Regions from separate parts of the Homo sapiens genome. Here regions 1, 2, 4, 5, 6 and 7 are each reported to be linked to region 3. Evidence: microRNA targets listed by miRTarBase, many of them from high-throughput screens and not tested one by one. Region 3 holds a microRNA gene; each other region holds the end of a gene's coding sequence.

Region 1 (4,153 bases), not on the chromosome of region 3:
AATAAATTCCTTTAGCATTTGATTATCTGAAAAGGATCTTATTTCTCCTTAGCTTATGAAGCTTAGTTTTCCTGGATATGAAATTCTTGTTTAGGATTTCTTTGCCTTAAGAATGCTGAATATAGGGCCCCAATCTCTTCTGGCTTGTAGGATTTCTGCTGACAACACTGCTGTTAGCCTGATGAGGTTCCCTTTGTAAGTGATCTACCCCTTCTCTCTAGCTACCTTTAACATTTTTTTCTTTCATTTCAGCCTTGGAGAGTCTGATGACTGTGTGGCTTGGGGATGGTTATCTTGTGTAGTCTCACAGGGGTTCTCTGCATTTCCTGAATTTAAAGTTTGCCCTCTCCAAGGAGGTTGGGGAAGTTTTCATGGATGATATTTTGAAATATGTTTTCCAAATTGCTTGCTTTCAATGAGTCATAAATTTGGTCTCTTTACATAATACCATAATTTTCAGAGGTTTTGTTTAATTTTCTTCAATCTTTTTTTAATTTCTAATATGTGTCTAAGTTATTTCAGAGAACTGTCTTTGAGATCTGAGATTCTTTCCTCAGCTTGATCAATTCTGCTGTTAATACTTGTGATTGTATTCTGAAATTTTTGAAATGAGTTTTTCACCTCTATCAGATCAGTTTGGTTCTTTCTTAAAATGACCATTTCATCTTTCATTTTCTGTATCGTTTTATTGTATAGAATCCTGGAAATGGATTTTCACTTTTGCCTGAAGCTCAATAATCTTGGTTCCTATCCATATTCCAAGATCTATTTCTGTCATTTCAGATATTTCAGACTGGTTAGGAACCATTGCTGGATAACTAGTGTAATTGTTTGGAGGTAAAAATAGACGCTGGCTTTTGGAGTTGCCAGAGTTCTTGCACTGGTTCTTTCTCATCTGTGTGGGCTGGCGTTCCTTTAATCTTTGAAGTTGCTGTTTTTTGGATGGATTGTGTGTGTGTGTGTGTGTGTGTGTGTGTGTGTGTGTTTATCCTTTTTGATGCCCTTGGGGGTTTGATTGTGGTATAAGGTGGGCTCAGTTGACTCACTTCATTTCTGGAAGATGTCAGTGGGCCAAGGTTCAGCTCAGCATTCCCCAATTCTGGAATGCTATTATCAGGCCCCTAGCTTTGTTCTCTCACCCCTCGAAGTTAGGAACCTGCTGTGCTGGGGGTCCAAAGGTGTTCCTGGATTGCTGGCCACAACACTCCAGTAAGTGGCAGTGACCACAGTACTCTGTCAGGGTGATAGCAGTGGGATCTGTGCTCATGCCACGGCAGTGGCAGCATGGCTGGGTGCATGCTCGTTGGCTGGGGTGAGGCACTGACAGGCATGGGGATGCCAAACCCCATGACCCATTATTTTTTATATATGTTTTCTGCCCATTTTCTGCCTCTGCTCCTTCTAGAAAACCCATAATATATATATTGGCTCAGTTGATCATGTACCATAGTTTCCTTAAGCTTTATTTTCTCTTTTTGTTTCTTTTTTCTTTTTGTTTCTCTGACTGGATAATTTCAAATGACTTGTCTCAAACTCACTGACTTTTTCTGCTGCTTGATCAAGTCTGCTGTTGAAATTCTCCATGCATTTCTTCAGTTCAGCCACTATGTGTTTTTTTTTAACTTTAAAACAAATCTCTTTCTTGACCTTCTGATTTTGTTCACATATTGTTTTTCTGATTTCATTTAGTTGTCTATCTGTATTCTCTTGTAGCTCACTGAGTTTCTTTTAGACAATTGCTTTAAATTATTTGTTGAGCAGTTTGTAAAATTCTTTCCCCTTAAGGTCAGTTACTAGTCCTTTATTTTGTTCTGTTGGTAATATCATATTTCCTTGATTGTTTATGATACTTGTGGTCATGTGTCTTTGGTGTTTGACTTTTTGAACAAGTAGTCACTTATTCCAGTTTTTACAGACTGGCTTTAGCAGACAAAGCCCTTCACCAGTCAGTCATCCAGAGATTCTGGGCAGGCCATCTGGCTTGGTCTTTGGGCAGGCTTGCTGCTGGCATCCTCAAGTGGACCTATTGACTTGGTATACCAGGGTAGGCAGTCACTTCATGAGGGCAGGCCCGAAGCCTCTAATCACAGGAGCCAGACTAAATCCTACTTCCTGGAGACCAATCTGGCTCTAAAGCAGGCCTTGAACCCATGTCTTCAGGGGTTAGCCAGGCACTAGGACAGATGTAGTATCTGAGTCTCTAGGACAGGTCTGGAGTTTGAGTCTGTGCATACTGGGCTGGTACCTGAAACTACAGGGGCTGGTATGGAGCCAGGGTTAGTGGGGGTGGCCTGTAGCCTGGGACCATGAATGTCAACTTGCCTCTGGGGTAAGTCTGGAGACTGGATTCATGGGGCTAAGGCTGGAGCCTGAGTCGGGGGGGCTGGCCTGGTGCTAAGGTCTACTGTAATGAAGCTTGATCCTGGGTCTGCTGGAGTATGAGGCCAGACTAGTACCGAGTCCACAGAGCCTCGCCTGGAACTGGGAAAATCCAGAACTTGTGTCTGTGGGGGCTGGCCTAGTGACAGAGGCCACAGAGGCTGGCCTAGCATCAGGGCTTTGTGCTCAGATGGACCTAAAGGCTTGGGGAGGGTTTGGGATTTGACAGGACCGTATCCTGCGACTGTGAGTGTCAGTCTGGAGCTGGGGTCTGCAAGTGCTGGCCTGAAGTTGTAGCTGTGGGAGCTATCCTGGAGCTGTGGTGGGTCTGAAGGGCAGGTCCACATGGGCAGGCCTGATGTCTAGGATTTCAGGGGTCACCCTGGAGTCTGTGGCTGCAAGTGCTAGCTTGTCCTTGAGGTGGGCTTAGAGTCTTTGTCAGTGGGTGCTGGCCTGTGGTCTGGAGCTATGGGGAAAAGCATGATGCTGTGTGTGTCTAGAGCCTGCATCTTCTGGGGCAAGACTGGAGGCTGCAGTCATGGGGGCTGACCTGGAGCCTGGGGTCACAGAGCCTGGGGCCACAGAGCCTGGCCTGGCATCAAGGCAGCCTGGAGTCTAAGTCCAAGGGTGTCTGCCTGGAGTCAGAGGCCACTGGGTCTTACTGAGGCAAACCTAGTGTTAGGGTCCATGGAAAACTCAAGTGCTTATTTCACTCTCTTTCCCCAAGTTTAGGGAATGTCTCTCCATGCTGTGCTTACTGAGATTGATGGAGGGGTGATATAAATAATGTAAAAGTCTTCTTTCTACCCTCTTCGATGCATCCTTTCTTATTTTTTGCAACATTCAGATGCTTTAATCACTCACTTGGGATTGTTAGCTCTTGTGAAGGTATTTCCATTTTAATGGGTAGTAGTTCAAATGAATGTTTCTGTGAAGGTTCAAGAGCTGGAAAGTCCTATCTACCATCCTGCTGATGCCATTCTCTGAGAAGTACTATTCTAAGCACCATCAGAGCCTCCTAAATCTGTTCATGTCACACTGTCAGGTTTGGGCTACGGGAATGGGAGGGCAGTAAGTACGCGGGAGAGAAATGTCCTCATCTCTCCACAACACAAATCCTACATGAGCAGGACCCACACCCTCATCATAACACACTGGTAGGGATGCACACTTCATCATTTTCCCTAGAGGCCTGGGTGAATAGGGAAGAAGCAAGACCCATAAAGTTTCCTCCACTCAAACACTTTGTCCTTCTCAGAGTATGGCTATGACACTGGCATATACAAGACAAACAAGTGCAGACTAAAAATTTTATTGCTCTTTAAAGCCTTAGGCCGTATGACAAAATGAAGAGACTGAAATGACAGCGGGGAGGAAGAAACAGAAGAAAGATAAGAATGAGGTGGTCAGGTTGGGGGAATTAAGCGAATATTCTCTTCCAGGGTGAGTCCTCACACTGGTCTCATGCCCATGATGAGTTGCACACCAAACACAGGCTGCTGACTTCCCTCCTGCACTAGTCAGTGAACTTGCAGACATAGGGTAACCTCACATTACAGTTATAATCTTTCCACCTCAGAAATGCTGGAGAGACAGAAGACATAAATGGAATGGGGCTGAGGAAGCTTGTGAATCCAATGAAGGGGCATCCCAGGTTTTAGCCTAGAAGTTAAAGCCTCTCCCTCACCTTCACCAGTGTCCCAATCCAGGAGAGAGATTCAAAGAAAGTGGAGAAGAGAGGAGATAAGAGAAGACACACTAACATTGTATTTTC
Region 2 (4,356 bases), not on the chromosome of region 3:
CAGTGGCACAATTCCGGCTCACTGCAACCTCAGGCCCCTGGGTTCAAGCGGTTCTCGTGCCTCAGCCTCCCAAGTAGCTGGGATTACAGGCCCGTGCCACCACACCCGGCTAATTTTTGTATTTTTAGTAGAGACGGCGTTTTCCCATGTTGGCCAGGCTGGTCTCAAACTCCTGACCTCAGGTGATCCGCCTACCTCGGCCTCCCAAAGTGCTGGCTGGGATTACAGGCGTTAGCCACCGCGCCCCGCCCTGTGTGTTTGTTTTTGAGACAGGGTCTTGCTCTGTTGCCAAGGCCGGGGTGCAGTGGTGCGGTCTCAGCTCACTGCAGCCTCGATCTGCTGGGCTTAAGCGATCCTCCTGCTTCAGTCTCCCGAGTAGCTGGGACCATAGGCGGTGCCACCACGCTGGGATAATTTTTGTATTTTTAGTAGAGACGGGGGTCTTGCTATGCTGCCCAGGCTGGTCTCGAACTCCTGAGCTCAAGCGATCCTCCCACCTGGGCCTCCCAAAGCGCTGGGATTACAGTCGTGAGCCACAGCGCCTGGGGACACCGCTCAAATCCTAACCCTTGGCCGCCCGTCGGCTCCTACAGGGGCGAAATCAGGCACCCACCGTGACGGCGAGCGTGACAGCGTCCGGCTCGACCTTGCCCAGATGTCCACAGAAGATGGAGCTGACGAGGCTGATTATAAAGATCATCAACTGCGCAAGAAACTGCGGAGGCGCGGAAAGCAAGGCGCGTTCACAGCCGCCCTCCCTCCTGGAAGCCCGCGCCCACCCCTGCGCGGCGGCCGCTCCGGAGGCGTCGGGCTGGGCGTGAGGACGCCGCACTCACCACTGGGCCCGCGAGCGCCGCCAGCTCAGCCGCCTCCCCCCGCAGGTCCGGGGGCAGCGCACCCCGCAGGCCCCACAAGCCGTCACGCCATCCGAGGGCCCGGAGCCGCTATGGGGGCCGGTCCTTGGCGGCGGCGGGGAGCTCGGCGGGGACCGGGGCGTCGGCGGCCGCAGGGGCCTCCATGCGGAGGCTGGGAGCGGCTGGCGGCGGCGCGGGCGCGGGACCGCAGCGCGGTGTGGGGGTGAGGGGGGCGACCCGATCCCACCCAGCCCCGCCCCTCCCCGTCCCGGACCCGCTCCAGACGCCCAGGGCAATGGTCGCCGCCCGCAGAACTCTGGGGGAGGGCACCGGGAGGGCCCTTGGGGGCTTATGAAGGGGGCTCGGGGAAGGGGTCCCTGCGTGAGAGGACCCCTCGTGTGCTTTTGGATGACACGGGTTTTTATCAGGAGAGTTTGTAGGTCAGGTTGGAAGAGCAAAATGCCTAGAGGGTGGGCAGACAGGACTGAGCTGGTGATTCCATCCTCCCGCGGAGCACAGGGCTGGCGCTTTCTGGCATGCTTCTGGCCTGGGCTTGCTGCGGGTTCAGTGTTTCCGGGAGAGGAGGGGTCCTGCCTCGCAGGGACCCCAGCCTCCCTGCTCCTGGCGGCCCGGGGTGGCCTCCTGGCCGCGGCTATTTGTGGCTGGTGGTTGAAAGAACCTCCTCTTATCCCCAGGGGGTCCCTGCCCTACCTGGCAAGGGGAAGGGCAGGGAGTCCTGTGCGAGGGGAATGGAGACAGGGTTCGAGGGTTCCTGACGAGGAGCTGGGGAGGGGCCTCTGTGGTGTCTGCCCCCTGCCCCCAGGCCCAACCCCGAGGGCCACAGTGCAAGCCTTTACCTGCCTTCCTGGAGAATGGGCCTCGTGGCCCCAAGAACAAGGCACTGAGGGTAGAGATACCTTAAGGTGGCCCCAACCAAAATCAGCAGTTGGGTGTTTTTTACTCAAAGTAGGTAACTTTTCTGATTTTGTTATTTCAGGAAAAGGCCATGCCTAGAGCATTATATCCATCCTAGCACTAAGTCAAAAATGTAGAGGCAAAATCTCTATTTAATGTTTTATTTTGGAAGAAAGAATTGCATGTTCAGGGCATCCATGTAGACCAGTTGGTCCTCGGTATGTCGGAACAACACAGAGAAGGCTGGAGGTTTTATCAAAAGAAATGTCAGTATTGCTCTTTGAGAAAGTTTATTGGCACCAGGAAGGGTGTTGGGAGCTGGCAAGCTACAACTGGTGAGCAACCGGGCAGGCAAAATTATTCCTAGAGCTTCAGCAAGTTCTCTCAGCAGTTATGGACAAAGCTGGTCCCAGCTTACAGCACGCAGTTTCACCAGCTGGATGTGCAGAGAATTACATTACTAGATTAATGTTATGTGCCTGAGGTGCTTTTATCCCTGGCTTCTTGACTTTTGATTGGGTGTGATAAGAATGACTTAATTTGGTGTAATCCACTTTCACAGCACTGAGCATACTTAGTATGTACTGAGGGTTGCTGAATTAACGGTGTGTACCGCACCCCAGGAAGGCTTAATGAAGTAGGATTACTGCTTAAGCTAAGACCTTTATTAAAATTTTGTCCTCTGGCCAGTCGTGGTGGCTCATGCCTATAATCCCAACACTTTGGGAGGGCAAGGTGGAAGGATTGCTTGATCCCAGGAATTCAAGACCAGCCTGGGAAACAAAGGGTAGACCCTGGTATAAAAAATTAGCTAGGCGTGGTGGCACACGCCTGTGGTCTCAGCTACTCAGGAGGCTGAGGTGGGAGGATCACTTGAGCCCAGGAGGTTGAGGCTGCAGTACGTCACGCACACACCCCTACCAGGAATTATCAGTCTTTGTTTGGATTTCCACAGCTCGAAAGATTTCCCAACTGTTTTTCAGTGTCCACAGTGCCTAGATCTAGACCTCAAATGAAGATTAACAAATGCCAGCTGGGCATGGTGGCATACCCCTGTAGTCTCAGCTACTCTGGTGGCTGACACAGGAGGATTGCTTGAAGCCCAAGAGTTCGAGGCTGCAGTGAGCTATGATCGCACCACCGCACTCCAGCCTGCATGACAGAGCAAGACTTCCGTCTATTAAAAAAAAAATTAAAACAAAAACAAATACCATTTGCCCAGTGAATAGTAATCTAAGGCCCAAGGAAAGATATACTGTAAAATATATTTTACATAATTCAAGCAGTATGAATTCTTAAGCAGTTAGTTTATGGGTTTGTGTCTAAAAAAATAGCAGAAGTATCAAAGCCATTGGCCAATGCAGTCAGCACATTGATCCTTGCTTGGTTCAGATAGTGGTGAATTACTACTCATGTCATCTTTCAGACAGTGTCTTGGGCCACAATATAGCTTTTAACCTTAGTTGCTTTTTCTTTTTATAGAAAAATGTGTCTTTGCATTTCCAGCCCTCAAAATCCATGGGCACACCTGAATGACATTAACTCACAGTAAATTGTCACTGGTGGGCCTGTGAATTGTGTGTAAGCTCAAAAGCATCACTTGACCTGACTTTCTTTCCTACCACGTCACTGAATTCTGACATAGAATCTCACTAAAATCCCCACCAGCAAGATTAAGAAGACCCCCAGGAGCAGAAGCCCTCGCCGCAGCACCAGCTGTTTCCTGGACAATTTAGCGCCGTCCTGTGGATGTTCCGGCAAAGGTTCTTCTTGGCGCATCTGCTGATCTGACTGAGGCTCGCCTGTCTTTCCAACATCGTTCGTTAAAATTCCTTCAAGGTTTTCAGGGCACCCTGGGAGGAAAAAGGAACTTAGCAGCTTAAAAGGGATTTTTTTTTTCATTTTTATAAAGGGCTATGTATAAAAGGAATATGTGCTAATAGTGGAGAGAAAGTTAATTCAGGACACTATTGCTACAGTGAATAAATAAAAGAAATCTTATCGCAGAGTGCCCCTCCACTCACTCCTTCACGAACACCGATGATCCTACCAGCGCTGGCTTGGGTGCTCCAGGGAGCACTCTCCCAGGAGCTAGAGAAATAAGGTAGCCCTCTCCATTAAAATTCACAGGGAAGCCGGGCGCGGTGGCTCATGCCTGTAATCCCAGCACTTTGGGAGGCTGAGGCAGGCAGATCACCTGAGGTTGGGAGTTAGAGACCAGCCTGACCAATATGGAGAAACCCCGTCTCTACTAAAAATACAAAATTAGCCGGACATGGTGGCACATGCTTGTAATCCCAGCTACTCAGGAGGCTGAGGCAGTGAGGCAGGAGAATCGCTTGAACCCAGGAGGCAGAGGTTTGGGTGAGCCAAGATGGTGCCATTGCACTCTAGCCTGGGCAACAAGAGCAAAACTCCACTCCAAGGGAAAAAAAAAAAAGGATTCACAGGGGAAATTTTCAAGGAGCCAACACCCATCTAATAAGCATTTCAGAACAAAACACAAGGAGAAACAACCTAAGAAATAATTCAAGTCTGGGTGCGATGGCTCACGCCCGTAATTCCAACACTTTGGGATGCTGAGGTG
Region 3 (4,356 bases):
TGGGTCTCTCTCACAAGGCTCCCTTGGGGCCTATGCCCTTCCCTGAACTAGCCCTGAGGCCAGGGGAATGGCACACACCACTGGCCAGTGCTGCGTCCCAGGCCCATCCCTGAAGCCAGGAGCGGTGGACTCAGCCTCACCTGGAACCACCGAAGTGGGGGTGAGAAGGGAGAGGAAGGGGATGGATATACCAGGCCGATAAGCACCACAGATGCTGAGCAGGCACTTTGTGAAACCTGCTGGGCTGGTGGCTTCCCTAGAGGTCTCTGCACCTCTTCTCGGTGACCTTTTGCCTGGTCCCGCATGCCTCAGAATTAAAACCATGAATACGGTAATAACAGCAAATGTATACTTGGCCCTTCCTGGGTGCCAGGCAGGCTTCTGCTGCATCTGTTAATCCATTTGACCCAACAATCAAACACAGTAGGTTTTGTTTCTGCCCCCATTTTATAGATGAGAAAGCTAAGGTACAGAGCCAGGAAGCAGCAGCGTGCTGCTTGTGATGTGAACCTGGCCCATCTGGCTCCACCATGCGCACTCCTGCTCACCAGCCCAAGGCTGTTGGTGCTAGCCAGGAAGCTGGGGCCCCGAGAGGGAGGGCCAGGCTGGAAGTCACCTGCAGTTGAGGGTCTGCAACTCTGTGAGCCTTGCTTCCTGGAGTGATCCCCACCTCCCTGTGTCCCACCCTGACTTTGCGCCTTCCTCCTTTCCGACCTCAGGAATCAAAGGCTCCTGTAGATATGGGGGTGGGCTTGCTGCCCCTGCCGATGCAGAGGCTCTTGTTCCCTGACTGCCACACCACTCCCTTGCCCACCAGGTGTTTGTGGTGGCGCTGGTGGGCATTGCCCGGGCCGTGGTATCCATGACGGTGAGCACCTCGAACGCTGCAACTGTTGCTGATAAGGTGCGGCTGGGCCCTCTGAGGGAGGCCAGGGAGGCCTGGCCTGGGGTGGGCTGGGGATGCTGGTCCAGGCTGACGCTGTGCCCACTCTGCGTGCAGATCCTGTGGGAGATCACCCGCTTCTTCCTGCTGGCCATCGAGCTGAGTGTGATCATCCTGGGCCTGGCCTTTGGTGTGTGTACCGCTGGGCTCTTGGGCCCTGGCGATGCTCTCCCCTGCCCCTCCCTGGCTGTGGGCTGACTCTGGAGTGGTCACCTGGGCTGGCTCCTGCCTGCTGACCAGCATGTTTCTTCCAGGCCACCTGGAGAGTAAGTCCAGCATCAAGCGGGTGCTGGCCATCACCACAGTGCTGTCCCTGGCCTACTCTGTCACCCAGGTAAGAGGGTGAGTGTGGGCAGGGGACGCTAGGAGTCAGGGCACCAGGCACCCACTGCTTCTGGGTCTGGGTCAGGTTTCCAGTCTTTATCACCTTCAGAGTTCTCAAAACTTTGCACCTGAGAAATCACATGGGGTGCTTGTTACCGAGGCACATTCTGGGGTCCCCTGGAGATTTGGATCCAGTGGGCCAGGGCGCCAGGATGGGAGGCTCAGGACTTGCCGTTTTAATAAGGAGTTCAGGTAGGGATGGTGCAGGTCCGCAGACCCCCCTGAGAAGCATGCATCTAGAGGCCCCTTTCTTAGATTGGGGGCAGGGACTGCACCTTGTCCATCTCTGCCCCCTTCCCCATGTGACTCAGCCCAAGACTGGGCCGGCTCTGGATGCTGCAATCAGTTGGGCAGGACATGGCCAGGGAGCAGACTGGGGCAGGTGAGTTGAGGGTCAGGCCAAGAGGCTGAACTTGGTGTGGTGGAGAGCTTAGGGGGCTTTGCATCAGGGAAAGCCCCTGGGAGAGAGAAGCCTTGAGATCCTCTCCCTTCCTCCCTTCCTGCTTGCCCCTGCAGGGGACCCTGGAGATCCTGTACCCTGATGCCCATCTCTCAGCTGAGGACTTTAATATCTATGGCCATGGGGGCCGCCAGTTCTGGCTGGTCAGCTCCTGCTTCTTCTTCCTGGTGAGGTTCAGGCTGGGGCAGCTGGGGTGGCTGGGGCCTTAGGGCCAGGTAGGGATTGGATTCCTGGGTTTCTGGCTGTGGGTCTGGGCTGGCGCCCCCAGCACCTTCTCAGCCCTGCCTGTCTCTGTAGGTCTACTCTCTGGTGGTCATCCTTCCCAAGACCCCGCTGAAGGAGCGCATCTCCCTGCCTTGTGAGCAGCTGGCCGGCGGCTCTGGGACAGGCGGGGATGGGAGGGAGTCTACCGGGCCACTGTAGAGCTGGTAGCTGGGAGCTGGAGCTGTAGAGTTCCAGGCTGGGAGCTGGAGAGCCCTGGGTGAGAGGGAGGCCTAGAGGGGCCCCGGGGGACACACCAGGCTTGAGGGTAGTAGGTGCTGGAGGCAGAGCCTGGCCTGTCCAGGGTGGGACCTCACGACCCACCCTGTCCGGCCCCCAGCTCGGAGGAGCTTCTACGTGTATGCGGGCATCCTGGCACTGCTCAACCTACTGCAGGGGCTGGGGAGTGTGCTGCTGTGCTTCGACATCATCGAGGGGCTCTGGTGCGTGGGGGCCGCAGGGTGTCTGCCTCGTGGGGGCATGGGAAGTGGGCGGCAGGGTGTCCACCCGCTGGGGGCATGGGGAGGTGTGGAGTCAGCATGGGGCTAGGAGGCCCCGCGCTGACCCGCCTTCTCCGCAGCTGTGTAGATGCCACAACCTTCCTGTACTTCAGCTTCTTCGCTCCGCTCATCTACGTGGCTTTCCTCCGGGGCTTCTTCGGGTGAGTCTGTGGCCGCCGGCGCCCCCGCGTGGCTGCCGGCGGAACTGCGCCTTCTTCCAGCATGGGTGTGAGGATTGAAGCTGAGAGGCTGTGTATGCATACAGTGCGCATGCGCACGCACATACATACATGCACTTGGGCACACACATACAGATACACATGCACATGCACACAGATATACGCACACCCACCCACATGTGCATGGACACGTGCACATGCACACACGGATGCACAAGCATGCACACATGCACATGCACACACAAACACGCACATACGGATACACACGGGCATATGCACACAAACATGCACGTGCACACCCACATGCATGCATACACACATGAACACGTGCTCAACATATACATACATGTAGATATATGCACATATCCACATATACATACATATATATGCACATTGTATGTACAGTACACACAGACATACTCTCCCCACGAGAGAGAGAGTGACTATGCACGGTGTTCTACATTGCTGGTTTTTATTTAATAATATATTAACTCATTCATTCGCAAGCATTCATTGAGCACCTACTGTGTGCCAGACACTGCTAGAGCCAGAAGATGCGAGGCCCACAGCGGATGCAAATCCTGTCCTCACAAAGCTTGTACCCTGTTGGGGGAAGACTTAAGTGGGGAGCAGGTTTGGGGTGGGAAGTCAGTTGGATTCTCTGGGGGTGAGTACACTGCTGTGCACATGTGCATCTGCAGAAGCGTCTGTGAGATGGGATGCTGAAGACATGGGATTGGGGGTCCCACTCCAGACCTTAATGTGGTCGGAATGTGGGTGTTTTGTCCCCCCTTTCTCACCTGCCAGGTCTTGTGGGGAGGGGATCAGCCTCCCACCTGGGTGAAGCTGGGAGAGGGCCAGACTGGTCCATGGCCCCAGCTTGGATCTTTGCACACAATTTCTCCCCTGAGCCTCAGGCTCCTTTTTGTAAATTGGGTGTAGTGTGTCCCCCTTGGAGAGTTGCCCTGAGGGCCGAGGGACGAGGTCAGAGTGGAGTGGGTGGTAACATGAGCAGCAGGGGTCACAGGAGTGGGGGCGGAGGCCACAGCCAATGTCTCCTGAGTGCTTGGGCAGGCACTGTTGAAGCCTCATGATTTATGTCCATTCTTCCTCCACACGGTGTCCACACACCCATTTCACCATGAGGAAGCAGGCACAGATGCCCCCCGCCTGAGCTCACACAGCCAGGGGGAGGAGGGCTGGGTTCCAAAACAAGTCTAGATGGGCTCTGGGGTCCAGCTCACAGGCCCACTCAGAGTGGGTGTCAGGCGACTGTTGGTCAATTCCTTCCTTATCTGGTGGCCCCATCAGCCTGGAGAGGAAGGCTCTTCCTGAATCACTCAGTGAGGCTTCCATGCCCCTCTTTTCCTTTTATCAGCTCGGAGCCCAAGATCCTCTTCTCCTACAAATGCCAAGTGGACGAGACAGAGGAGCCAGATGTACACCTACCCCAGCCCTACGCTGTGGCCCGGCGGGAGGGCCTGGAGGCTGCAGGGGCTGCTGGGGCCTCAGCTGCCAGCTACTCGAGCACGCAGTTCGACTCTGCCGGCGGGGTGGCCTACCTGGATGACATCGCTTCCATGCCCTGCCACACTGGCAGCATCAACAGCACAGACAGCGAGCGCTGGA
Region 4 (4,356 bases), not on the chromosome of region 3:
ACCAGGTTCCCTCTGCAAGGGCCTCGGCTCAGTCGTGTGCACTTCCTCGGAGAGCCTTGGGCTGCCACGTCCACCCCGGGCTCTGCCCGTCCTGTTCTGCCCATGGCCCAGCCCGGCCGCTCCTGCTGACCCCTCCTGGACGGGCTGGAGCTGGGCTCCTGCCTTTGCTGCTAACACTGGAGGCGGTGTTCCTAACTGCAGTGTGCTGCTTACACCTCCCCGCGTGGGTAACCAAATTTTTAAGTAGTCAGAGACATATCGAGGTAGTTACATAAAATTATTTTGTTTGGCATTATTTTTCTCACTCGAAGAAACTATATAGGGTTGTTTTTCCTTTAGCTTGTGCTCAAGTCCTCTTGCTGTGTTTTCAGAAGCACTCACATGTTCTTTCTTTTCCTGAGTGAAAAGCAAAGGTCCCACGGTGTGTGCTGTGGTGCACCGCCTGGCTTTGGGGGTCCCGGAGGCAGGCTGCCTAGACTCACAGCCTCGGGACCGTTGCCACGGCCTGTCTTCTCGTTCAGGCCTGCCTCTGACAGCACTCACCATGAGGACATTCCATCCTTCACCCCCTCCTCTGGCACAGGCCACCACTGCGGTGCTGTGCCTTCAGATGGGAGGTGGGCGCGGTGGCCTCCTCCTTCCCTCCAGGACCTGCCCGTGTGAAGACCCCCCGGAGTGCTGAGCTTCAGGGCTGCGTGGAAAGAGTTTTTACTCTCTTTTTCTAGCCTGTATACCAGGCTTTTCCCCACATTGTCAGGTAGAGCACCAGCTTCCCTGACCGCTGCTGCTCGGGGAGGGCTGGGGCTGGCCGGGGGTCCTGTGGAGGAGTACATGGAGGACTCCAGGTACAGCGCAGGAGTCACGGCTTTTGTTTTTTGACATTGGCCCCCGGTTCTACCAATGACAGGGTGCCCTGGCTGGAGCTGTCATCACACACACCCCTCAGCTCGGAGGCTGTGGGCTCCTCAAAGCTGGAGAAAGAGGCCAAGATTTTTCTGCACACGGAGTGTGGGGATAGGAGCCGGGCCAAGCGCTGGCCCCTCAGCGGTGAGCCCTGCCCACTCTTACCGAGCAAGGTGGGTGGCTCTGGCACGAGTCCCCCAGGGGGAGAGCATGGCTACCAGGGAGCTGCAGCGGAGCCCTCCAGCCCTCACCCCAGGCCAGCCCCACCCCGGCCTCTTTGAGAATTCTCAGAACTTTGTACCTTTCCCCTGATTTTTAAACCCTTTTTCTAAACAGACTGACTTTCTTACAAAATGCATTTGGAAACCAGACCTTTGCTACCCACCAATGTCTCTGGGTTTTGTACCAGTCCCTGCTCTCAGGCCACCCTGCCCAGGACCCAGGCCCGCCTCCCCCTCCACACTCAGGATGTCCTGCTCCATCTGGCCGGCTCACTCCGTGTGGCCTGCCTTTGCTGACCGTTTTGGGGTTCCCCGCCGGAGCTACAGGGGCATTTTCTTCCCTAAAACCAACAGTGTCCCACTGACCTCCCCAAGTGTTTGCTGCGTGGCAGATTTCCTGTTCTTGTTCGCAGTTTGCCGACTGAAGAGTGTGGGATTTCCGAGGCCCAGGTGAGCACGTCCATCTCAGGAGGCGTGGAGGGAAAAGACATGTCATGAAGGGTTTTTTTTATGTGACTGATTTTTTTTTAAATCGATGTTCAAACTAATAAATATTTTTTTATGAAGAGGAAAAATGTGTAGATTACATTTCACATTTTGTATTTTTGTTTGTGTCTGTTTGTATTTTGGTGTTTACAACACCAAAGTGGGAAATACAGTCCATTGGGGATGGTGTTATTTGGGGGCGGGGAGGGGGCAGGGACACCACGATTTTTCTGTCAAGCTCTGGATCCTGACCAGGTTGTACACTGGGGCTCTCTGAGCTTTGGGACACAGGACACTGCCAGGGCTACGTAGGGAACTGACTCAGAAGACGCAGCTTACTGCTTCCAACTTTGCACATCTTCCTCTTTAAAAAACTGAGAAAATGCAAAAACTGGAACTTTTTGCAATATTATAAAAGAAGTAATCTTATTTTAGCTCATTCTGTGACATGTGCGACTCTTAAGAAAGCCATACTTAATGGTGGTGGTTTTTTTTAGATCTTATATTGTGTTTTGTATGCAGCCCTTTTAGAACTACTTGTAGTGAGGGTGCTGTGTGTGCTTTTCTTAAATATTTATTTTTTTCAACATGCTTTCAACCTGTCAACAAAAACAAAACACACAAAAAAAGGGCAGTGTTTGAAGATTGTTGATTTTTTTCTGGGGATAATCTATATTATATTGACTTCCTATTACTTATTATAAACCTGTGTTTGTATTGGAGATGTGTCTACTATTGGGGGAAGAGGTTCTCGTAATCGCTCGGTGGGAAATCATGGCTCTGCCGTCCTGCCTCTCTGTGGCCGTGGGTTCACGTGGCCTCTGCGGTGAGTCTCCAAGTTTCTGCCTAGGCGCCTGTGCGTTTCCTTTCTGTGACGGGATTAGCTTAGACATCCTTGCAAAGCGATCACTTTCAATAAATTGGGAAATTGCTGCTCCAGCAGATGCCTCCTGCGTCTCAGATGATCCTTCCTCCGGCCTCGCCTGGGGTGGCGGCGGCCGACGGGTGACCCTCGGCCCTCTGTGGGCAGCTGCCAGACTCCACCCACTTGCCCACCACAGGGTCCCAGCCCCACGGCCTTCCTCCCGAGAGGCAGACAAAGCTTCTGGAAAAACCTCAAATCTTTAATTTCTCTCTTCGCCTGGTGCAGCCCAGACGTGAGACACCTGAGCTTCAAAAACAAACATGGTAAAAACAGCCCCAGGGCCCGAGAGCCGTTGAGTTAAGTGCGAGTGGGGGAGTCCCCTCTCCAACACCCCTCAAAGTGCATCGGGACTGGCCCCCCAAAGCTGGGCCCATAACACCCTTGATAAATCTACGGGCCGACAGGCGGGAGGGTGGCTGCCCCCAGGGCCCTTGGGGCTAAGGGGACAGCGGTGTGGTTTGGCTTTAGTGCAAAAAGCTGGTTTCTTTAGAGGCACTTTGAGTGGTGGGACCCCTCCCCGACCTGGCGGGGGGGAGGGTTCAGGGTCAGCCCCGCCCCCCCACCCCAAGTAAAAGCAGACCCTGCAGCTGGTGAAAGCCAGCCCCTGGGGCTGTCCTCGGGCTGTTTCAGCCCCGGGCCTGGAGGGGGTGGGGAGGGAGAAGGTGGTAGCTTATGTTCTTGAACGAGCCGGACTTAGTCCAGGAACCGCTGGCAGGCTTTCTTCCAGCGGCAGGCTGTGCACCAGAGGTCCCGGCGCTCCATGCCATACACCTTCCGGCACTTCTTCGCGTCGCCGCGGGGCTTCCTGTGCGGGGGGTCACAGGACATGGGGTGCTGTGAGACCAGGACCCTCCCCACCTGGTGCCAGCCGCAGGCCCTCAGCCCACACGCACCTCAGGGTGACTCCGATCCTGGAGGACAAGGCGGGTGGGCAGGCTCCGACCTCCGTGGGCTGCGGCTCCAGGCGGGCGGGCGTCAGGCAGCCCTACAGGGAGACACAGCCAGGGCTTCACTCCCCTCCAGAGAGCCCTGAGACCCGCCCCAGCTGCCACCCGTGGCCTCACCCACCTGGTAGACACGGTCACTGTGACAGGACTGGGGGTTAGCAACGGTGCTCAGGACAGGGGGCGGGGGCAGGGGCGGGGCAGGCGGCCGCAGGGGACTAGGCAGGGCTGGGGGCTCCAGCAGCTCTGGCAGCTCCAGGCGGGGGAAGGCAGGCGGCATGGAGGCCGTGGGGGACACTGGAGTCAGGCTGGACAGCCCGTCGGTCAGCGTGTCCACACCAACATCCAGCTCTGTGTAGTAGAAGTCCTCCTCACCATCACTCTGCTCAGGCTCTGCCTGCCTCCTGCGGGAGACACAGCCAGCCAGTGGGAGCTGAAGGGGTGGCCTGGCCGGGCCTCACAACCCCAGCCAACCCGCAGGCCCCGCCGCACCCCAGGCCCCGCCGCACCCCAGGTGCACCAGGCGGATGTGTCTCTGCATCGCCGACGCCGTGCTCAGCACCTTCCCGCAGCTCTTCCACAGACACTGGAACATGACCTGGGCCGGGCTCTGCAGCAACAGGGGCCAGGGTCAGGCTCAGCCGCCACACCCGCCCCTCCCTGGGGGCCGCCCCCAAGCTCACCTTCCTTTTTCTCAGGGTGGGCTCCCCAAACAGAAAGTGGGCTGCCTCGGGGGGCAGTGGGGGTGACGGGGTGGACGGAGAGGACTGGTCACTGGCCAGGTCCCATCCCCAGTCTCCACTGTTGCTGCTGCTGCTGTAGCTGCCTGGGGGCCGCACCAGGGCCTCCTTCCAGGGCTCCAGGCCAGGCTCTGTGG
Region 5 (4,356 bases), not on the chromosome of region 3:
CCTGCCCTGCCAGCTGAGACTGGGAGACGGAGTGGGCTCTGATCCCAGGGCTTCCAGGAAAGCTCTGGCTTTGGAGCAGAAGCGGGTTCTAGGACTTAGTGCCCCTCACTCGGTGCCTGGGTTCCTGTGTGTGTGGAAAGGGTAGGGCTGCACCCTGTGGAAGAGGGTTCAGGGAGCTCTGAGGACCTGGCTCGTGCTAGATGCTCAGTCAGTAGTGTGTTTTAGCAGCAGCCGGAAGTGACTGCTTTCAGTGTGTAGTGGTGAGTGCTAGCTGGCACCCCTGCGCCTGGCTTCCCAGACACTGTAACGCAGGGCAGGGGAGGCAGCGAGGGCTGGGTCCCCACGGTGGCCCTGGCAGCCCCGCCATCCCCATCCCCTGCCACGTGCTGCTCCCTCCATCTGGTCCCTGCCCCTCAGCCAGCGGAGGAGCCCGCTGGGCCCTTCCCTGCCCGTCCCCGCTCCTCCCTGGCCCCCGCACAGGTAAGTGAGGGTGAGGGGGGCACAGGGGACTGGGGTCACTAACCCCCCCCGGGCCCCCCCCGAGCCCCTGAGGTGGGGAGGCTGGGAGGCGGGTGGGGAGCCAGCAGGCACTGTGCTGAGGAAATCCTGTGGGCACCCGAATGGGGGGGCCTCCCCGCTCGTGGGGCCCTCCCCTGCCCTCCCGCCCGCCCGCCTCATCACCTTCTCCTCTTGTCTCCATAGCTTCCGCCCTGCGCTGCCAGTCTCCTACCTGCAGGCCGAGCTGGCCTTCGAGGGCGAGGCCGCCTGCCGGGCCTTCCTAGAGCCCCTGGGCCTGGCCTACACGGGCCCGGACAACTCCAGCATCGACTGCCGCCTCAGCCTGGCGCAGCTGTCAGCCTTCTGAGCACCCAGCGAGGAGGGGCGGGGGCAGGGGCTGCAGCCCCCAGCGCTGCCTTTGCGGATTCTGTTTTTGAGCCGTGGACTTGGGTTGTAAATTTATTTGTGGGGAGTGCGCTCCAGGAAGAGCCACCATCCCTGCCCCCGTTTTCCCACCGGGGAGTCTGTACAGAGATTTTTCTACGTTTTTATTTTTTGCCTCAGAGGGATGGGATTGGGGAGGAGGGGATGGGCAGCGGAGGGTTGGGGGCATGGTCTGCAGGCTCATCTGTGTCCGCCTTTCACTCCACTAATGCTGTCTCAGTGTTTTCTCTCTCTCTCTTTCGAGCTTGCACTCCGGTACCCGACCCGGCGCCCTGGCCCATCCCATGCCGGGGGGCCAGTGGAAAGAAGACAGGCCGTCCAGCCCGTGCCCGCCTGCGGCGGGGGCACCCAGCAAGCCCGCCCACCGCCCGCTGCCTCACCTGCTTCGCCACAGACTCTTGTTCCCAGCCCCTTGGGGCCTCCGTGTTTGGGGTGGGGGAGCTGCTTAGAGACTGTGCCCGTCCTCGGCCCCCCACCCTGAAGTGCCAGCACCACCAGCACCAGATCCTCCGCCGCCACACCGCACTGAGGACACGCCGGCCGGGCCGCCTCGTCTCAAGTTGTATAAAGTTGTCTCCGTGTCCCCTCCTCCCTCTGCCCCCAGTGTTTCTTCTGATTTTTTTTTCCCCTTTCCCTCCCTCCCTCTCCGCATTCTTCCCTTGGTTCAGCACAGGTAAAACGGTTCCCCTCCCTCCCTGCCTTCATGGATCACCAGCTCACGTCATGTTGCCTTCTCTTTTCTTTGTGTGTGTGTTTATTTAAGTTATTTTTCTTCCTCCTCTCCCTTTTCTTTTTGGCCCTCCCTCCCTCCCTCTTCTGCCATGTAACTGGAGGATGTGCTATGAGTTTGCAAACAGCTGGACTGTCAGGCTGCTTTTTTTCCAGATGTTCCTCCTCTGCCTCCCCTTCCCCTCCTCTCCCCTCCTTTTCCTTCCTTCCTTCCTTTCCTTGGAGCACTGAGCACCATTTGGAAGCTTGAGAGAAACCAAAATTAAAGAGAGAAAGAGAGAGCGTGCACGCTCCTGCTTTGTCTTTCCTGTGTGGGCTGTTTGCATCCATTGTCTCCTCCAGAGGTCTGGGGGTGTCACTCCAGGGGGATCTCAGCCAGGGGCTGGAAAGGCCCCCCTGTCCTCCCTATACGGCACAGCCAGAGTGTCTGCAGGGGCTGGCACCCCACTTCCTGGCTGAGGGTGAACTCCAGCTTGGGGAGGTGGACCTGGGAACCATGGGGCACCTTGGCCACGGTGAGGTGGGGGTGCAGCTGCCCTGGAGACTGTAGTGTACTCAGCCCCTCGGCTTCCAGCCTCTGGCTCAGCACTTGTGCCATGCTTTCCAGTGTGGGAGAGGGTGGGGCACACAGCACATGCGGGCCCAGGAGGACCAGCTTTCTAAAGCTCAGCCGAGGGGGTGCATTTAGCCCCGGGGCCAAGAGGGCCCGTCTCAGAGCTCCAATGGCAGCGGCCTCCTCCCCAGCGCCTGCCAGTCGCAGCAGGGCCAGGGTCAGGTGTAGGTTCTGAGAGGGCACTAGGAAGTTGGCGCAGTGTGGGGCCACGTGGACCAGGTATTCCTGGGCCTTGGTCACTTCTGCTTGTAGCCCAGGCTCGGTCACCATGAGGGCCACAAAATGTGTGGGGCGCGGTTGGCAAGGGGCTGCAACACTAAGGCGGGCCCTTTTGTCCTCGGGCCAGGCCGCAGGACCCCACTCGGCTTCTGTCGTCTCAGCGGAGCCCCCCGGGACTCCCAGGGCCTGTGCTTCCTTGCCCCCCAGCAATGTGGTCCTGGTGGCTGCTGTTGGCTTCAGTGCCTCAGTCACTCCGGCGAGGCGTCCTCTTGGGGCCAGTGTTCCCAAATCAGCAGCTGTGCCCAGCGCCCTCTCCTGGGCCGCCTCCAGCTCTCCGGGTTCCTCCACGCCTGGTTCCTGGTGCCCTGTGCAGAGCGGCCTTGTGCTCCCTCGCTTGGGGGCAGCCTGGGCCTCCTGACCTGTCCCCGCCAGTGTCCACTCGGCACCCTCTGCCCCGTGGGCGCCCTCGGTGTTCGGTGCGTCCAGGATGGTGGGCCCGCGTCCCGCCGCCGAGCCAGAGCCAAAGACGAGGTCGGTGCGCGAGGCGCGGTCCCACACAAGGCGGCCACGGAAGCGGAAGAAGCGCACGCGGTGCTGGGGCACTGCCAGCACGCCCGGCCCGAGCGCCGCCAGCGGCTGGTCCCAGCAAAAGGCGCTGAAGGGCTCCTCGCGCACACCCAGAAAGCGGTCGACGTAGCCCACCGAGAAGTCGGCGGGGTCGAGGCGCGGGTCCCAGCGGATGCGCTGGATGACGTCCGCGGCTGTGCGCAGCGGCGGCTTCTTGGCCCCGGCCTCCGGCTGCGCCTCGCGGCCAGGCGGCGCCGGCGCCCCAGGGTGGGGCTGGCGGCAGCGGGCGCCGAAGCGGCAGCGGCCTTCCAGGAAGAAGCGGCAGGCCGGCGGGGGCGCGGGTTCCGTGGCGGGGGCTTCCTGCGGCAACTCCGGCTCTCTGGCCGCTGCCATGGGTGCGGGGAACTGGCACGCCCGCCGCGCAGACGAGGTCGCCCCGCACGGAGGGCGGCTCCCCTTGGATGCACCGAGCCTCACCCGACAGTGGCGTCAGCGGCCCGCGCTCCGGCCTAGCTCTGGGGACCACGCCGCGTGCCCTCGCGAGGACTCTGGCCCAGTCCCTCCTTGGTGGAGAGCCTGACACCGCTGCTCTGGGACTTCCCGGCTGCGCCCTCCCCCAGCGCCAGGAAAGCAAGCTGCGTAAAGGCTGCGGCAGTCTCGGTCTCCCGGAGCTCTTGGGAGCCTGGCCCCGCCCCTTTCCCGGTGATTGATGTGTGCTGCCTCTTTCTGGGTGATTTACATGTAATGCCCCGCCCCTTTCGGGATGATTACGTGTGCCTCGACCTTTAGGTGATTTACATGTAGTGCCCCGCCCCGTTCCCGGTGATTTACATGTGGTGCCCCGCCCCTTTCCTGGTGATTTACGAGTGCCCCACCCCTTTTAGGTGATTTTTTTTTTTTTTTATGTGTGCCTCTCCCCTTCCCAAGTGATTTACATATGTTCCCCGCTCCTTTCAGGGTAATTTACATGTAATGCCCCGCCCCTTTCCGGGTGATTTACGAGTGCCTCTCCCCTTCTCAAGTGATTTACATGTGTCCCGCCCCGTTCCGGGTGATTTACATGCGTGCCCTGGCCCTTTCCCAGTGATACTTTTGTGCTGCCTCTTTCCGGGTGATTTACGTGTGTGCCTCTCCCCAAGTGATTTACATGTGTGCCCTGTCCGTTTTAAGGTGATTTACATGTGGTGCCCCGCCCCTTTCCGGGTGATTTACCTGTGTCCCATCCCTTTCCCGGTGATTTACATGTGGTGCCCCGCCCCTTTCCCGGTGATACCTGTGTGCCCCGC
Region 6 (4,132 bases), not on the chromosome of region 3:
CACAGCAATCTCTTTATTGTGGCTTATTTGCTGCTTTTAAGGGTCTCTCTTACTTAAATGCTGTGGGTCTTAACAGTGTTTTCTTCCTTGTGTTAGATGTACCAAAGCTTCAGCCTCATCCGGGATTGGAGAAGAAAGAAGAGGAAGAAGAAGAAGAAGAATATGATGAAGGGTCTAATCTCAAAAAACAGACCAATAAGAACCGGGTGCAGTCAGGCCCCCGCACACCCAACCCCTATGCCTCGGACAACAGCAGCCTCATGTTTCCCATCCTGGTGGCCTTCGGAGTCTTCATTCCAACCCTCTTCTGCCTCTGCCGGTTGTGAGAACAAATGACTATCCTGAACAGGGTGGAGGGGTGTGGGAAAGAAACCAGCCATATTGGTTTTGGTTTCTGTATTTTTCACAATGATTAATGAACAAAAACAAAGAGAAAAAAACACACATCAATTAAAGGAGACAAAAAGAGGCAGAGCGAGTAGAGAGCAGCCCTCATTCACCACCTGGTCCCAGACGTGCTTCAGTCCTCGTCCTCTCTTTGTGGCTGGCTCCCAGCCTTCTCTTTCCTCTTGAGGATACTTAGGGTAAACTGGATCCTTCCTGCTCAAGGATCCTCATTTGTATACCTAGTGGAAAGGACTCTGAACTCAGAGGAGTCACTGTTCCTTTTTTTAGGTTAGAAATTAACAGCAGGGAAATGCCATCTTATTACCTGAGACGACCAGCACTGGGAGTTAGGTACGGTCTGAAGTTATGTCTAGATAAGACTTCAGACGTCCTGGGATTGAAAGAATGTGTGTGAAGGGGTAGAATTTGTGCGGTAAAGACTTAAAAAAAAAAGTAGGGAGATTAAAAAAAAAGAAAGAAAATGCTTCCTTATCTGGAAGCCTTTCTGGATTAATCCAGTGATGGTCCCACCTTTAGTGTTTGAGCTTTGTCATTGCTTGTCTCCCTGGCATGTGCCAGTTATAGACTGTCCAGCATCCAAGACGTTTCGGTTATGTCGGGTCCTCAGATCGCCTCTGACTTGTTACCACAACAAATCATTTTGATTTCAGTGCCTGTTGGGGACTTGATTTCTTCTCAGTTTTGTTTGTTTGTTTGTTTCCTTAATCTGGCTCATTTGAAATTTCTTCTCCCTCTCAACCATCCCACTAAGTTATAGCCAAGAAGGGAAGGAGACACGGGGATTTGGGGTTCTCTGCTTGAATGTCTTCTCCTTTACCACCTCACCTTGTTGGTACCTCCCTCCCTGGATCTCTGAGCCAGCAGCCAGGAGGACCTGACCCAGCAGTTCTTTACTGGCCCCTTTGTAGGGCCTTGCTGCCAGGGGGCAGGGATGCTTTCCAGCCTGCAGCAACAGAACACTTGACCTTAAAAGTCTCTTCTGGTCTTTGGATTAGAAAAGGCTTATGTTAGCATAGCTTAAGAGCAACCTCAGAGATTTGAGCCCTACTAAGTGACTGACCACTGTTTAGAGTGTCTGGTATCTGATGTTCATTTATTCCCATGTTCTTGTGTGTCACAGTTCAGCCAGTTTTGGTTTATGCCTAGAGCTACTTCAAGGAACTAGACTAATTAGCTATATAGGCCCAGCGATGCTTCTTATTGATCTTAATAGTATGCCCCTCCTTCCCCTGTCCTTTCATTTCTCTATCCAAGTAGCAGTCAGGTTCTTGGTGTGATGGGACTGAAAGAATTCCAGTCAGCCAGAGCCTTGGCAGCTCTGAAGCTAACCTTAGCATCTAAGTGTCGATCTTGAATTCCCTGAAAAAATTTCTATAGGAAATGAAGCTTCCCTGGTCCCCTCCTTTCTGGCCATTGTCATCCATTTCCCAGTTAGGGCAACAATGAAGGAGGACCCAGCCAAGCTAGAAGGAATTTTGTGGATGGGAGACAGCAGGATTAGCTTCAGCTTGGGCTGGAGCAGTCAATATAGGATCTCAGGCCAGGCCCGCTTTTCTAGAATGTGTTTAATTTTGAGTTTGCTTTATTAGATATGTTTTTTAAGAGCTCTGTATATTTGAACTGCTCCTTATGTGACAAAATAGGTAGCTCTTGGGCTCATGTCCTGGGTTTTGGCTCTTTAATGATTACTCCAGGCCAGCATTTAGTCGTTTGAGAATTGTAGCCTGTTGTTTTCGCTGTGACTTGGGTCTCAGTGCTAGGGTATTGAGTCAGGCAGCTGGAGGGTTGTGGCCCGAGGCTGCAGTCAGAGGTATACTTCCCATAGTGCTTCACACAGCTCCCCTGCTTCTAAAGGATAAGGTACTGTAGCCTTGGTCCTGGGGACCACCTGCCTGGGGCAGTGGACATCCTAACTAAACAGGCTTCTGGCAGTAGCTTTGGTTCCTATCCCATCGAAATTCCCCAAAGCCCTGGGCCACTGCCATTGGGTTAGTCAAGATGAAGGAGGAGGACTGGCTGCCTCCATTTTGCCTTGTTTGTTAGTTTGCCTGGGTCTGTCTGAGGAAGGAGGGGGTCCCGCCTTCCACCTCAACACATCCCTTCAGTGACTCAGAGTCTCAGAAGGAAACCCTGACTCCTGGGGCCATTTCCTAATGGTACTGTAAGCCAAGCAGCTTTGCTTCTGCCTCTGTTTCCAAGCCCACCCTTTTCCCCTGAGCTCAGGGTTAGGGATGGGCGCTTTCCTCTCTGGTTGTGAACGAAAGGAAGGAACATCTTTCTATGGCTAACAAAAACTAAAGGGGAAGTGAGGAAACAGGAAGAAGTATGGTGGGGGCTGGGGTAGACTCCCCTGGAGCCAAGCCTATCCAGCTAACAAGAGCTCCCTGGGGCTGGTCACAGCTGGCTCATGATGCTGAACTTGAAAGTTTTTTTGTTTTTGTTTTTGTTTTGTGGCTCCTCCAAGATATAGGTACATGAAGTTTAGGTTAAAGGGGTGGGATTCTTTATTTTTATTTTTGTATTGTATGTGTCAAGAATTACTCTGTTGTTCACCTTTTGCTTTTTGCACTGTTTGTTCTCTTATCTGTATTTTGAGCTTAGTGCTAGGACTGAGAGGCTGCACCATAGGGAATGTATGGGAGATGGTGAGGGGTGCCAGTGAGGGGTGCGTGGAGGAGAGGCCTGGGCTCCTCTACTGGATCTACACTCTGTCCCAGGTTTTTAGATCCCACTGAGCCCAGCTGACTGAAAACAAGGACAGTCAGGGTGAAACTTCTTTTGCCAGAAGTGTGGCCTGAGTTGAATTTCTGGGAGGATGACGCAGATGTCTGCTGCAGAGCTGGGCTGAGAGTTCTGCAGTCTAGCTCTGACTTAGGTCAGGGGCCTGTTGGTCTCTCATTGGACGTTTTTGGGTCTCACTCATGCTTACTGAAACATTGTGCCAAGAAACTCTGTGGGATTTGTGTCCCTTAAACCAGACTCACTTTTCTGAAAAATCTCCATTGTTGAGGAGAGGCTGCTCAATCGACACCCCGAGTTCTCATGACTGGGAAGATAGTTTTCTTCAGGTGTCAATGGCGTTAGACTCCCAGGAAGACTAGCCCTGCCCACAGGGCCACCTGTTGGTTTGAGAGCGTGTTCGTGTTCTCTTGCCCTCCCTGCCTAAGAGCTACTGGGATCACGTTAGCGGGCATTTAGGCTTTGATGAGAGGGCACAGTTTGAGTTAGGTTTACCTCCCCCTTTCTGTGCCTGGGAACTGTTTGGTCCAGCTTTAGAACTGTGGTTTTGACTTCCTTATCTCTTGGGAGAAGCTTCTGTTTTAAGGAATTTCTCTTCCTTCTTCTCCTGCCTCTAGCCTCTCCTGGAAAGGCCTGGATATGGTTTCTAAAATCTCAGCTGAGAACTTCAGAAAACAGCAGCAGTATTTTCCTTTTCCTAGTGCTAAAATCCCTTTCCCTAGAAATTGGCTCACCTTGGGAAACCCAGGGAAAGAATCAGCAGGTTCTCTGCCCTCCCTAGGGGTTGGGGAAGGACCCACCCCGGTCAGCACAGTGCCTTTTCCTCTCCTGCTCTGAGCCAGGGTGGGGCATTCCCTCTAGATTCAGGTTTGGGCAGGGGTCCTATAGTCCCTGCCATGGGGCTGCTTCCCTGTCCCTTCCCTCCCCTTTGCTGGCCTACTCTGGCATAATTCAAGTGTCTTCTTGCCTTGGGGATCCTTAGTGG
Region 7 (4,142 bases), not on the chromosome of region 3:
TGCTCAGCATCTGTGCTCCTCTGTTCCAAGAACTTAAGGGGCCAAGGAGGCGAGCTTCTGGGGCCCCAGCCTTCAGCAGCGATCGTTGTCTCCCCTCCGCAGACATCAACGAGTGTGATGAGGCCGAGGCTGCCTCCCCGCTGTGCGTCAACGCGCGTTGCCTCAACACGGATGGCTCCTTCCGCTGCATCTGCCGCCCGGGATTCGCACCCACGCACCAGCCGCACCACTGTGCGCCCGCACGGCCCCGGGCCTGAGCCCTGGCACCCGCTGGCCGCCCACCCGCGCCCGCCACTCGGGGCCCCTGCCGCGCATCCTGCAGCCCGCTTATGCGTATGTGCACGGGGCCGCCCGCCTGGACCTGGAGAAGGGACCTACGGACGCCTGGAAGCTGCGACGCCCTGCACTGCTCCCGCCTCCACCAGCGCCTCCCACTGATGTCGTGGTCCCGGGCCTGGCCCAGGGGCCCCTTTACATGCCCTCTCCCTTTTATAAAATTTTCCATTAAAAACCACCTATTTTCTATCTTTTGCCTCCTCCTGTCTATTTCTCCAAGTCTACCCCAGTTTGTGCTTTGAGTCACTAAATGACATTCCCTTCCCTTCTGACCCCTAGTTTCGTCTGTCTCTCTGCCTCTCTTGGTCTCTGTCTTCCTTCTCTCTCTGTCTCTGTCGTTCTATCTCATCTCTGTCTCTTTCTGATTTGTTTTCTCTGCCTAACCTCTACATCCTGTCTTTTCATTTCTGTTTCTGCATGCGTCTTTCTCTTTTCCCTTCTCTTTGTTTGGTTCTTTCATCTCGAGAGCAATCTTGCCTCTGGATTTTTTTTTTTTTTTTTTTTTTTTTTTTGAGATGGAGTCTCACTCTGTCACCCAGGCTGGAGTGCACTGGCGCCATCTCCATCCACTGCAACCTCTGCCTCCCGGTTTCAAGCGATTCTCCTGCCTTAGCCTCCCAAGGAGCCGGGATTACAGGTGCACACTACAACCCAGGCTAATTTTTGTATTTTTAGTAGAGACGGAGTTTCGCCATGTTGGCCAGGCTGGTCTCAAACTCCTGGCTTCAGGTGATCCACCCACCTTGGCCTCCCAAAGTGCTGGGATTACAGGTGTGAGCCACCGCACCCAGCTTTTATTTTTTAGAGATGAGGTCTCCCTATGTTGCCCAGTCTGGTCTCAAATTCCTGGGCTCAAGTGATCCTCCCACCTCGGCCTCCCAAAGTGCTGAGATTATAGATGTGAGCCACCGTGCTTGGCCTAGAAGTCTTAAGCTGTCCTGGAACAAGTGGGGCAAGAGCAGGGAGCAGGAGTCCCTGGAGGGCCAAACCCAGACCTGACGCTCCAGCTAGGAGTTGGCTGTGGATGGAGTATGGAGCGGCAGTCCTGACAGCTGGAGGCGGGAATGAGCTCTGTGTGTGATGGTGGAGTGCCCAGCACGGACCTCCTCCATGTGCCCTGCCTGCTTACTGGCCATGTTCCTAGTCCAGACTCCTCCTCCCTAAAAAACAAGAACGGCCTAGATCAGCATAAACTTAGGGCAGGAGTAGGGGTCGGGAATCGTGGGTGATCAACTTGGCACTGGGCCAAGCTGGGAAAAAAAAAAAAAATGTACCTCAGCCAGGCGCGATGGCTCACACATGTAATCCCAGCGCTTTGGGAGGCCCAGGCAGGCGGATCACGAGGTCAAGAGATCAAGACCATCCTGGCCAACATGGTGAAACCTGGTCTCAACTAAAAATATAAAAATTAGCCCGCCATGGTGGCATGCAACTGTAATCCCAGCTATTTAGGAGGCGGAGATAGGAGAATCACTTAAACCCAGGAGGCAGAGGTTGCAGTGAGCCGAGATGACGCCACTGCACTCCAGTCTGGCGACAGAGCCAGACTGCATCTCAAAAACAAAAACCCACAAAACTGTACCTGTCATTCTTCACCCACCTGTCAATTCTTGTGTCCCCAGGGTTTCAAACTCATATGCTGCAAAGACCAGAACCGGAATGTTAGCAGGAAGCAGGGAAAATTGAGGCACACATTACCTTCTGCCTAAGGCTTGGTTAGACTAGGAAGGGGAATTTTCCCCATTGTTAATACTTTTTTTTGGCCTGGCGGGGTGGCTCACGATTGTAATCCCAGCACTTCGGGAGGCCAAGGCAGGATGATCACTTGAGCTCGGGAGTTTGAGACCAGCCTGGCAACATAGTGAGACCCCATCTCTACAAAAAAGTAGCTGGGTGCGATGGTACATGCCTGTAGTCCCAACTACTTGGGAGGCTGAGGTGGGATGATTGCTTGAGCCCAGGAGGTCGAGACTGCAGTGAGCTGTGATCGTGCCTCTGCATTCCAGCCTGGGTGACAAAGGCATACCTTGTCTCCAAAAAAGTTTTTTTTAATGTATATTTTTAATAACTATCTGATATTGTTTGGCTGTGTCCCCACCCAAATCTCATCTCAAATTGTAATCAGAATTGTAATCCGGGGAAGGACCTGGTGGGAGGTGATTGGATCATGGGGACAGTTTCCCCCATGCTGTTATCGTGATAGTGAGTGAGTTCTCACAAGATCTGATGGTTTTATAAGGGGCTCTTCTCCCTTGGCTCGCTGTCTCTCCTGCCGCCTTGTGAAGAAGGTGACTGCTTCCCCTTTGCCTTCTGCCATGATTGTAAGTTTCTGAGGCCTCCCTAGCCATGCAGAACTGTGAATCAAGTAAACCTCTTTCCTTTATAAATTACCCAGTCTTGGGTGGTATCTTTATGGCAGAGTAAGAATGGACCAATAGGGCCGGGCACGGTGGCTCATGCCTGCAATCCCAGCACTTTGGGAGGCTGAAACAGGTGGATCACCTGAGGTCTGGAGTTCAAGAGCAGCCTGGCCAACATGGTGAAACCCCATCTCTACTAAAAATACAAAAATTAGCAGAGCATGGTGGTGGATGCCTGTAATACTACCTACTCGGGAGGCTGAGGCAGGAGAATCGCTTGAACCCAGGAGCCGGAGGTTGCAGTGAGCTGAGATTGGGCCACTGCACTCCAGCCTGGGTGACAGAGCAAGACTCTGTCTCAAAAAAACCAAAAACAAACAGAAAAAGACTAATATAGTACCCTATGGGGCCTATTTGGCCTATGAGGCTCCAGTTTTAATCCTCTAGGCACTGCTGAAATTGCATAAATTGTGGATTGGAGGCTGCTTCCTGACCTGATCTCCAGCCCACCCGCTGAGTGTCAGGAGGGGTCACATGCCCAGCAGCCTCCTGTGCTACATCGGGGAATCATACTAAGAGCGCCTACCCTGCAGGATTGGTGGTGGTGGTTAAATGAATTGTCATATATGTGCTTAGAATGTCACCTGGTACAGAGCAAGGGCTCAGTCATTGTTGGCATAACCCTGGGCCTCCCAGGATATGCTGAGCCCTGTGGCTGGGCAGATAGTAAGGTCTTGTTCTTTTCTCTTTTCCTTTCCTTCTTCCTTTTCTTTTCTTTCTTTCTTTCTTTCTTTTTTTTTTTTGACATAGGGTCTTGCTCTGTTGCCCAGGTTGGAGTGCAGTGGTGCCACCATGGCTCACTGCAGCCTCAACCTCCCAGGCTCAAGTGATCCTCCCACCTCAGCCTCTCAATTAGCTGGAACTGCAGGCATGTGCCACCATGCTCAGCTAATTTTTTAATTTTTATTTTTTGTAGAGAGGGGACCTTACTGTGTTGCACAAGCTGATCTCAAACTCCTGGGCTAAAGTGATTCTCCTGCACTTTGGCCTGCCAAAGTGCTGGGATTACATGTATGACCCACGGCACCTGGCCTGGCTAGGTCTTTTTCTTTACCAATTCTCCCTCCCAGGGTGGAGGAGGAGGCCAGACCCCATCCCCTTCAACAGGACAGTGAGAAACACCTAACACAAGGCCTTGGTGGGGAGGAGTGTCAGACAAGGAGTGGCTCAAGGCTCCACAAAGGGGTGACAGTTGCACAAAACTGTCTGTACCAAAAATCATTGAATTATACACTACACATGGGTGACTTGTGTGGTATGTGAATCATAAGTCAATAAAGCCCTTCTTTAAAAACGCCGACTCTACAAAGCGTTTCAGAAAGTTACCCTCCAGCTGATACAGGGAACCCGACCCAACCACTAATTCCTCAGTCATTCATTCAACAA

What was found. The annotated mature microRNA hsa-miR-6825-5p reads UGGGGAGGUGUGGAGUCAGCAU and lies in region 3 at 2,568-2,589, shown strand. An mRNA with a match to its seed (bases 2 to 7 or 8) in the 3' UTR can be bound and repressed. Matches are read on the target gene's strand: a 7mer-m8 pairs with bases 2 to 8, a 7mer-A1 pairs with bases 2 to 7 and ends in A, and an 8mer does both.
Region 1: the mRNA of REG3A is a reported target of hsa-miR-6825-5p. Seed matches in the 3' UTR shown: 7mer-m8 at 3,748-3,754.
Region 2: the mRNA of SLC47A1 is a reported target of hsa-miR-6825-5p. The part of its 3' UTR that is shown has no 7-base or 8-base seed match.
Region 4: miRTarBase lists SLC2A4RG as a target of hsa-miR-6825-5p. Seed matches in the 3' UTR shown: 8mer at 3,184-3,191 and 7mer-m8 at 3,066-3,072.
Region 5: the mRNA of LENG8 is a reported target of hsa-miR-6825-5p. Seed matches in the 3' UTR shown: 7mer-m8 at 1,842-1,848.
Region 6: the mRNA of MLEC is a reported target of hsa-miR-6825-5p. Seed matches in the 3' UTR shown: 7mer-m8 at 3,642-3,648 and 7mer-m8 at 4,068-4,074.
Region 7: the mRNA of LTBP4 is a reported target of hsa-miR-6825-5p. The part of its 3' UTR that is shown has no 7-base or 8-base seed match.

Annotation. Positions count from the first base shown.
Region 1 is chr2:79,153,331-79,157,483 of GRCh38, forward strand. REG3A (regenerating family member 3 alpha) reads right to left here. Exons shown (of 6, transcript NM_002580.3): 6 at 3,676-3,963. The coding sequence ends at 3,896. Among named protein-coding and RNA genes, the nearest start is that of REG3A, 4.3 kb to the right of the region's middle.
Region 2 is chr17:19,576,593-19,580,948 of GRCh38, reverse strand. It overlaps SLC47A1 (solute carrier family 47 member 1), which reads right to left. Exons shown (of 17, transcript NM_018242.3): 17 at 1,915-3,622. The coding sequence ends at 3,396. It also overlaps the pseudogene SLC47A1P1. Among named protein-coding and RNA genes, the nearest start is that of SNORA59B, 21 kb to the right of the region's middle.
Region 3 is chr3:127,573,538-127,577,893 of GRCh38, reverse strand. It overlaps MIR6825 (microRNA 6825), which reads left to right and starts at 2,563; the gene lies at 2,563-2,628. TPRA1 (transmembrane protein adipocyte associated 1) reads left to right here. Exons shown (of 11, transcript NM_001136053.4): 4 at 818-904; 5 at 1,001-1,073; 6 at 1,198-1,277; 7 at 1,844-1,954; 8 at 2,085-2,145; 9 at 2,389-2,491; 10 at 2,629-2,709; 11 at 4,106-4,356. RefSeq lists enhancers at 1,859-2,437, 2,438-3,017 and a silencer at 2,405-2,584.
Region 4 is chr20:63,741,863-63,746,218 of GRCh38, reverse strand. It overlaps SLC2A4RG (SLC2A4 regulator), which reads right to left. Exons shown (of 8, transcript NM_020062.4): 4 at 4,163-4,350; 5 at 3,989-4,089; 6 at 3,604-3,883; 7 at 3,429-3,520; 8 at 2,169-3,340. The coding sequence ends at 3,229. It overlaps ZBTB46 (zinc finger and BTB domain containing 46), which reads left to right. Exons shown (of 5, transcript NM_001369741.1): 5 at 1-2,549. It overlaps ZBTB46-AS2 (ZBTB46 antisense RNA 2), which reads right to left and starts at 2,394. Exons shown (of 3, transcript NR_186425.1): 1 at 1,491-2,394; 2 at 544-691; 3 at 268-396.
Region 5 is chr19:54,460,064-54,464,419 of GRCh38, forward strand. It overlaps LENG8 (leukocyte receptor cluster member 8), which reads left to right. Exons shown (of 16, transcript NM_052925.4): 16 at 703-1,953. The coding sequence ends at 865. LENG9 (leukocyte receptor cluster member 9) reads right to left here and starts at 3,715. Exons shown (of 1, transcript NM_001301782.2): 1 at 1,669-3,715. The coding sequence starts at 3,463. The coding sequence ends at 2,027.
Region 6 is chr12:120,696,220-120,700,351 of GRCh38, forward strand. It overlaps MLEC (malectin), which reads left to right. Exons shown (of 5, transcript NM_014730.4): 5 at 97-4,132. The coding sequence ends at 326. Among named protein-coding and RNA genes, the nearest start is that of MLEC, 11 kb to the left of the region's middle.
Region 7 is chr19:40,629,294-40,633,435 of GRCh38, forward strand. LTBP4 (latent transforming growth factor beta binding protein 4) reads left to right here. Exons shown (of 30, transcript NM_001042545.2): 30 at 103-525. The coding sequence ends at 257. Among named protein-coding and RNA genes, the nearest start is that of LTBP4, 30 kb to the left of the region's middle. RefSeq lists an enhancer at 1,607-2,197.